Linked DNA regions of Homo sapiens: regions 1 and 3 are each linked to region 2. Evidence: fine-mapped expression QTL. A gene starts in region 2. Each other region holds a variant in brackets. All regions are shown on one strand. Distances are between the middles of the regions.

Region 1 (2,762 bases), 20 kb before region 2:
TGGGCAAGTAATGAAGCCTCCATAAAAACACAAAAAACAGGGCTCAGGAGAGCTTCCAGATAGCTGAACACGTGGAGGTTCCTGGAGCATGGCATGCCTGGAGAGAGCATGGAAGCCCCTTCTCCTTTGGCCCTACACATCTCTTCCATCTGGCTGTTCATCTGTATCTTTTGTTAACATCTTTCATAATAAACAGGTAGAGATAAGTATTTCCCTGAGTTCTATAAGCGGCTCTAGCAAACTAATCAAACCCAAGGAGGGGGTTGTGGGAACCCTGGTTTATAGTCAGAGGTATAGGTGACAATGTATTACTTTTGATTGATATCCCAAATGGGGGGCAGTCTTGTGGGACTGAGCTCTCAAACTTGTAGGATCTGATGCTACCTCCAGATAGACATTATCAAAATTGAATCAAATTATAGGACATTCATCTGGTGTCCACTGTAGAAATGATCACTTGCTTGGTGTGTGAGGGACAGTCCCCATGTTTGGTCACAGAAGCGTTCTGTGTGGTGAGAGTATAGTAGGATAAAGGGAGTTTGTTTTTTCCCATATTTTTACAATGGGAGACTTATTAAAGAACCAACTCTAGGTATCAGTATGATCCTCATTGTGTTAAACATTAAAATCAAAACTGTATATATATTTAAATTTACATTAAAATTACCCGAAAAAGGCCGGGCATGGTGGCTCATGCCTGTAATCCCAGCATTTTGGGAGGACAAGGTGGGTGGATCATTTGAGGTCAGGAGTTCGAGATCAGCCTAGCCAACATGGTGAAACCCCATTTCTAGTAAACATAAAAATTAGCCGGGCGTGGTGGCAGGTGCCTATAATCCCAGCTACTGAGGAGGCTGAGGCAGGAGAACTGCTTGAACCCAGGAGGCAAAGGTTGCAGTTAGCCGAGATCGTGCCACTGCACTCCAGTCTGGGCGACAGAGCAAGACTCTGTCTCCAAAAAAAAAAAAAAGAGGGGGGAAAAAAAAAAAAGAAACTACCTGAAAACTACAAACTGAATTTTTGATAAAGGGCCAGTAGACCTTTTATGCAACAATCTGAGAAGGAAGATCAGGAAGAGCATGGTACAGTACACAAAACTATAATACACAGTATCTACTATAAAGCTACCAGGTTTTTTCATCATAAAATATCTAGACAGACATGTATATGTAATTCAATATGCAAAATATAAGTATCTCTAAAGTTAGGCTAAAGGCATACCAATTCTTTGATATCTTTTTCAAACAATGTGAATTATTTTGATTTTTTAAAGTTCCAATTCTGGCCGGGTGCTGTGGCTCAGGCCTGTAATTCCAGCACTTTGGGAGGCCGAGGTGGGTGGATCAGGAGTTC[G/A]AGACCAGCCTGGCCAACATGGGAAACCCCGTCTCTACTAAAAATACAAAAATTAGTTGGGGGTGGTGGTGGGCACCTGTAATCACAGCTATTCGGGAGGCCGAGGCAGGAGAATCACTTGAACCCAGGAGGCGGAGGTTGCAGTGAGCCAAGATCACGCCATTGCACTCTAGCCTGGGCCACAGAGTGAGACCCTGTCTCAAAAAAAAAAAAAAAAAAAGTTCCAATTCTGACTAAGGGTCCACAAAGCAACAGGCCACAACCCTGAATGGATAATCCTAACCACAGACCTAGGGTGGCCAGAGGCAGAAGGCCCAAATGGGGGTGATACCTTTTTATACTGCTGCACACATCAATAAAATAAATAATGTGGAAAAGAGAACAAAACAGAAAAGAGAAGCTTGCCTGTAATTGGCTCTACATCTATAACTAAGACACACAGCTCTTTGTTGAAGTTCCCAATCCAAATAAGTCCAAGTCACAGGACACAGAAATCAACATGGATCAACTTACCTGAACAAAGAAAATAAAGTGCTTAAAGGAGGTGTTGAGGTGGGCCTCCTCTTGCAGCTGCATCACAGAATCAAAGTGCTGGTGATAAATATGGGCATAAACCCTGAACAGACGCTTTAGAATAGTCTTTGCCACAGACATAAAGTTTTTGGGAAATGGGACACCTGCAATTAAATACACATATGAAACAATTATTTGGTTATCTAACAGTAGAAAGTTGTTTATTTGTGACAGGGTCTCACTTTGTCACTCAGGCAGTGGTGCAATCTCAGCTCACTGCAGCCTCGACCTCCTGGGCTCAACTGATCCTCCCACCTTGGCCCCCCAAATAACCTGCACTACACGCCACCATGCCCAGCTAATTTTTTGTATTTTTTGTAGAGATGGGGTTTTGCCATGTTGCCCAGGCTGGTCTTGAACTCCTGAGCTCAAGCAATCTGCCCGCCTCAACCTCTTAAAGTGCTAGGATTACAGGCATGCCCAGCCTAACAGCAGAAAGTTTACACACTGCCATGAGCACCTGCAACATATAAACACACACATTCATAAATACACACAAACCTACCTCTGTATATATTTTTTAAAGCCAAGGAAATGAAAACCCAAACCCCAATCCTCACAAAGTACCACACTTTTTTCTGACTGCCTTAGGCACAGGTATCAAATTATGTAAGATGCTGCTAAATCAAAGTTCAAAAATCCTGTAGTTTTAGTTTTTTGTTTTTTGTCCCCCCCCCCACCCCGGAGACTGAGCCTCACTCTGTCACCCAGGCTGGAGTTCAGTAGCATGATCATGGTTCATTGTTACCTCCACCTCCCAGGCTTAAGCAATCTGCCCACCTCAGCCTCCAAAGTAGCTGGGACTACAGGCGTGCACTACTACACCTGGCTGATTT
Region 2 (2,762 bases):
TACGAGAATAACCCAAAGGAAGGAAAATGAGACGCAGATAAACATATTCTGAGTAGTGCTATTTTATAATAGTAAATACTGGAAGGAATCCCAGTTTCTCACAATAAAGTGGGTAAACTCTGGTTATAAAAAATAAAAAAAAAACTATATAGTGTTTTTATATTGTATTTAATAAAAATGTCAAGCATGTGGATTACATCCATAACTAAAATTGGATAATTATTCAATCACAAAACACACATTTAAGCAATATACAAGGTAGAGAGAGACACCTGAGAATAAAAAATACTGTGCCAGAGCAATGCTTCTCAAACCTTAATGTGCATAAGAATCATCAGGGAATTTACAAGCTTTTTCATTTTAGCCTTGTTTGGTTGGGCTCAGGCATTATCTCTAAAATGAGATTCTAAGGTATGCCTATCAAGTTAATTGCTGTAGTGCACTAAAATGGCAATACTGTGTTTCTGCAATGGGACTATGAATTTGTTTTAACTTTCCAAATTATTTATAATACTGCAATGTACTATATAATAATGCTGTATGGTATATTACATAATGATTAAAAACACAGGATTCTACCGAGGACAAGAGAAGTTGGTTAAAATCAAAGCCAGTAAGTGGGCAGAATCAGAACTGGACAGAACGATCCGACTCCAAGGCCAGCATCTTAACTTCAAGCTTCTCAAACTGCGGCAACGCACATTCTCCTGGGGCGGCATTTAACACCGACAATAATGAAACTGGACCTATAACCGAGCAACGAGTTAAGTCGGCAAGGACGGTTTCTAGAAGCTCGAGACAAGAGAAACTGGGGGCTCGCGGCTCCGCCCCCAGATCGTCTCCCCGCCCTCGGGGGCGCTCGGGCGGAAAAGTTTGGAGGCGCGACGGCCCCGGGGCCTTTCTACTCCCCAGCCTTCACGCTCCGTTTCCTTTACTTCGACCTTCATCTCTGTCGGCCTCTCCCAACATCTCGGCCTCCCCCGCGGACCCGAACAGAGGCAAAACAAACGCCAGCTACCCCGCCCCCGCCTCGGCCCCCAGGCCGAGCCCTCGCCTCAGGTCCGGGGAGGCCTCCCCCACAACCTCGGCCCGCAGGCCCGGCGCCCGCGGCCCGACCCCACTCACAAGAGGAAGCTCATCTTCGGTCCTCAGAGGGGAGGCGAGGGGCCCCTGGCCCCCGCCTGGATCAGGATTCGGAGCTGGCTAGAGGGAGCGGACCGTCCTTAGCTCACGGGCAGCGGAAGCCGGGCCGCCGCCGCTCGGAGCCGGGTTTCTGGCCGCTGCGAGCCTTTGCAAACCTCGGCGCCCGCCTTGCCCGCCTACCCCACCTCGCAGACCCGAAATGCGGAACCAACAAAATCTCGCGAGCTAAGGTTTCGCTGCGCCGGGAGGGACTTGTCGCGCCCCCTTTCGCTCCGCCTCGTCCTAGAACTCGGCCAATCATCGCTCTCCAAGCCAGGACCTCCCTCCCCCGGAGGCGTGGCGAGGATGGCGGTCCTGCGGAAGGGGCAGTGGCTGGTCCTGCTCTTAGAGTATCTTGGTGCTGCTGGGTTTCGATCCCGCTCCCTAGGTTATGCAGGGACCTCTATAAGCGCTGCGTACTCCTGCAATTTTTAAAATTGTTAATTTAATTTTTACTTGAAATATATTCACATAGCATAAAATCTGTCCTTTAAACATGTACCCTCTAGTGGTCTTTTTCGGTTTTTTCTTTCTTTTTTTTTTTTTTTTCTGAGGTGTCTCGCTCTGTCGCCCAGACTGGAGTTCACAGTTCACTGCAGCCTGGACTTCCTGGGCTTAAGTGATCCTCTCGCCTCAGCCTCCCGAGTAGCTGAGACCACAGGTGCCTGCCACCACGCCCGGCTAATTTTCTCAAAGTTTTTGCAGAGACGAGCGTCTCACTGTGTTGCCCAAGCTGGTCTTGGACTCCTGAGCTCAAGGGATCCTCCTGGTTTGACCTCCCAAAATGCTGGGATCACAGGTGTGAGCCACTGCCTCCGGCTTTGTTTATGTTTTCAAAGTGTGCCAACCATCAGCACTAATTTTTTTTTTTTTTTTGACAGAGTCTCACTTTGTAACCCAGGCTGGAATGCAGTGGTGCAATCTCGGCCCGTTGCAACCTCTGCCTTCCAGATTCAAGTGATTCTCATGCCTCAGCCTCCCGAGTAGCTGGGATCACAGTCGTGCGCCACCACACCCGTCTAATTTTTGTATTTTTTTTTTTTTTTTTTTTTAGTAAAGACGGGGTTTCGCCATGTTGGCCAGGCTGGTCTCGGTCTTGAACTCCTGACCTCAAGTGGTCCACCCGCCTCGGCCTCCCAAAGCTGGGATTACAGGCGTGAGCCACCGCGCCCAGCCTAACCATAATTTTAGGCCATTTTCATCACCCCGAAAAGAAACCCCATACCTATTAGCAGTTACTCTTTATTACCCACCTCCCTCCTCCCAACCCCTGGCAACCACTACTCTACTTTCTATTTCCATGGATTTACCTAATCTGGACATTTCATATACACTGTGAATGGAAGCATACATTATGTGGTCTTTTGTGACTGACTTCTTTCACTTAGCATAATGTTTTAAAACGCACCCATATTGTAGCATGTATCAAAGCTTCATTACTGGCCAGGCACAGTTGTGGCTTACGCCTGTAATCCCAGCACTTTGGGAGTCTGAGGCTGGCGGATCACTTGAGCTCAGGAGTTCGAGACCAGCCTGGGCAACATGGTGAAACCCCGCCTCTACAAAAACACAAAAATTAG
Region 3 (2,720 bases), 30 kb after region 2:
TAGGGATGAGTGTGATGATACAAAACCCGTATGGTAGCCAAGTATGGTAGGCAACATAGCAGTGCTCATTAAATGCCTCAAAAATTTTTTTAACCTCAAAATTTCTTATAATAGGAATCAACAGTGAGACAATTATGAAACCAGCTTCAATTTCAGAGGAAGAATTGTTGAATTTAATCAATAAACTGAATAATGATGATAATGTAGATGGCCTCCTTGTTCAGTTGCCTCTTCCAGGTGAGTTTTGGACTCCATTTAACATGATTGCTGCTGCTTCTGCTCCTTTCCCTCTCCCTCCCTCTCTCTCTCCCTCCCCATCCCCCTCCTCCTCCCTCTCCTTTCCTTGTCTCACTCTGTCACCCAGGCTAGAGTGCAATGGTACAATCATAGCTCATTGCATGCTCAAGCTCCTGGGTTCAAGGGATCCTCCTGCCTTAGCCTCCCAAATAGCTAGGACTATAGGCATGTCCACCATGCCCAGCTAATTTTTACATTTTTCCTAGAAATGAAAGTCTGTCTGTGTTGCCTGGGCTGGTCTTGGACTCTGTGCTTCCCAAAGTGCTGGGATTACAGGCATGAACTACCATGCCCTACCTAAAATGGTTTCTGAGGGGTAAAAAGGCCTTGTTACTTTATACACCTGGTTCTTCATGTGGATTTGGCTTAAAGGCAAAATAAACTCAAAAGAGTGAATATTTTATTAGAAATGGGACAGACCAACTCAGAATACCAATTACGCCTTGATTTAGTATTGTGGTCTTGATACAAAGGACAGTGGAGGGAAGCAGCTGTGATAGACGATATTGGCTTTGCTATTGGTGTTTGGCTTTGCTTATGCGAGTTCCTTCCATGCAGATGAAGTACATCTCAGAGGCAAGCTGTAGAAGAATAGATTTCCTTGCGAAGCAGATAAGCTGGAGTCAGGCAGTGCTGACTATGCGGTGGTGATTTAAGGCAACTGTGCCAATTTCTTTTTCAGAGCATATTGATGAGAGAAGGATCTGCAATGCTGTTTCTCCAGACAAGGATGTTGATGGCTTTCATGTAATTAATGTAGGACGAATGTGTTTGGATCAGTATTCCATGTTACCGGCTACTCCATGGGGTGTGTGGGAAATAATCAAGCGAACTGGTAGGTATATCCCAGAATTGCATGTCTGTGTTAATATTATAAAAGTAGTACTGGCAAATGGTAAAAACTCATACAGTCCCAAAGAGTGGAAACCCTACTGCATATCCTCTAGTCTTACTCCCCAAAGTTTACCTCTCTTAACAGTTTTTTTTTTGTTTTTTGTTTTTTTTGAGACAGGGTCTTGCTCTGTCACCCAGGCTGGAGTGCAGTGGCGCGATCTTGGCTCACTGCAGCCTCTGCCTCCTGAGTTCAAGCGATTCTCATGCCTCAGCCTCCTGAGTAGCTGGGATTACAGGCACGTGCCACCATGCCCAGCTAATTTTTTTATTTCTAGTAGAGACAGGTTTCACCATATTGACCAAGCTGGTCTCGAACTAGGCCTCAGGTGATCCGCCCCCTCAGCCTCCCAGAGTGCTGGGATTATAGGCATGAGCCATCGTGCCTGCCCTTAACA[G/T]TTGCCTATGACAGTTTTTGCTTTTTAATCCAGAAGTCTCAGTGAAGGAAATTTTCTATTTTTCTTTTTCTTTTTTTTTGTTTTTGAGACGGAGTCTTGCTCTGTTGCCCAGGCTGGAGTGCAGTGGCGTGATCTCGACTCACTGCAAGCTCCACCTCCTGAGTTCATGCCATTCTCCTGCCTCAGCCTCCTGAGTAGCTGGGACTACAGGTGCCCACCACCATGCCTGGCTAACTTTTTTTTTTTCTCGTATTTTTAGTACAGACGGGGTTTCACCGTGTTAGCCAGGATGGTCTTGATCTCCTGACCTTGTGATCCACCTGCCTTGGCCTCCCAAAGTGCTGGGATTACAGGTGTGAGCCATCGCGCGTGGCCTCTATTTTTCTTTTTAATTTTTTCTTTAAGAGTCAGAGGTTTCATCATGCTGCCCAGGCTGGTCTCAAACTCCTGGCCTCAAGCAATTCTCCTACCTTAGCCTCCCTGGCCTCAAGCAATCCTCCCTCCTGCTGGGATTACAGGTGTGAGCCACCGCCCCAGCCCTCAGTGAAGGAAATTTAAGATTTGATAGTGGTGACAGTGCACATTCCTGTAACATTTTGTAGCCTGTAGTATGCTTTCTCCTGTTTTCTTTTAGCCCTTATTATGTGTAGCAAGTTACAGCTCCAGTTGACTGATGAGGCAAAATTGGGTTCATGTTCTAGGCCATCTGACTTTGTTTTCCTTTGGACTGGCACTACTTTTAATGTCAATACATATATTTTTATAGGCATTCCAACCCTAGGGAAGAATGTGGTTGTGGCTGGAAGGTCAAAAAACGTTGGAATGCCCATTGCAATGTTACTGCACACAGATGGGGCGCATGAACGTCCCGGAGGTAAGGAAATTGCTTTCAGGGAACACTGTCCTTTTTTCCCCATGTAAGAACTTTCAGAAGCCATCCTGTGCATGTTTGGAAGTATTAACTCTGTTATACTTTGTATTTGTTGAAATTTTGTTAACAGACAATTCAGGGAGTAACCTTTGTAGAGAAGCTGCACCCAGTGTCACCTGAGTTTCTTTATTATTCATTTATCATGTAACTAGCTTCAGAAATAAATTTAAGTTTTGAGTATAAGCATGGTTGTAGGCAATTAG

Which allele goes with the higher level. Positions count from the first base shown, and alleles are read on the strand shown. Sizes are in standard deviations (SD) of each study's normalised expression. Not every link is listed here.
In carriers of allele G in region 3, the expression in monocytes after LPS of the gene that starts at base 1,344 in region 2 tends to be higher than with T alone (large effect, 0.79 SD a copy in Quach 2016).

The links. PIP is the estimated chance that this variant, and not a neighbour inherited with it, causes the effect.
Region 1: its variant is the best candidate, but not a certain one, in a credible set for the expression of MOB1A in monocytes (Quach 2016, PIP 0.82).
Region 3: its variant is the best candidate, but not a certain one, in a credible set for the expression of MOB1A in monocytes after LPS (Quach 2016, PIP 0.54).

The regions. Positions count from the first base shown.
Region 1 is chr2:74,157,225-74,159,986 of GRCh38, forward strand. It overlaps MOB1A (MOB kinase activator 1A), which reads right to left. Exons shown (of 6, transcript NM_018221.5): 5 at 1,867-2,030. Among named protein-coding and RNA genes, the nearest start is that of BOLA3-DT, 11 kb to the left of the region's middle. The variant G/A (reference allele first, on the strand shown) is at 1,354.
Region 2 is chr2:74,177,536-74,180,297 of GRCh38, forward strand. It overlaps MOB1A (MOB kinase activator 1A), which reads right to left and starts at 1,344. Exons shown (of 6, transcript NM_018221.5): 1 at 1,126-1,344. The coding sequence starts at 1,139. RefSeq lists an enhancer at 369-1,052 and a silencer at 916-1,105.
Region 3 is chr2:74,207,590-74,210,309 of GRCh38, forward strand. MTHFD2 (methylenetetrahydrofolate dehydrogenase (NADP+ dependent) 2, methenyltetrahydrofolate cyclohydrolase) reads left to right here. Exons shown (of 8, transcript NM_006636.4): 3 at 115-237; 4 at 980-1,132; 5 at 2,353-2,460. Among named protein-coding and RNA genes, the nearest start is that of MTHFD2, 10 kb to the left of the region's middle. The variant G/T (reference allele first, on the strand shown) is at 1,587.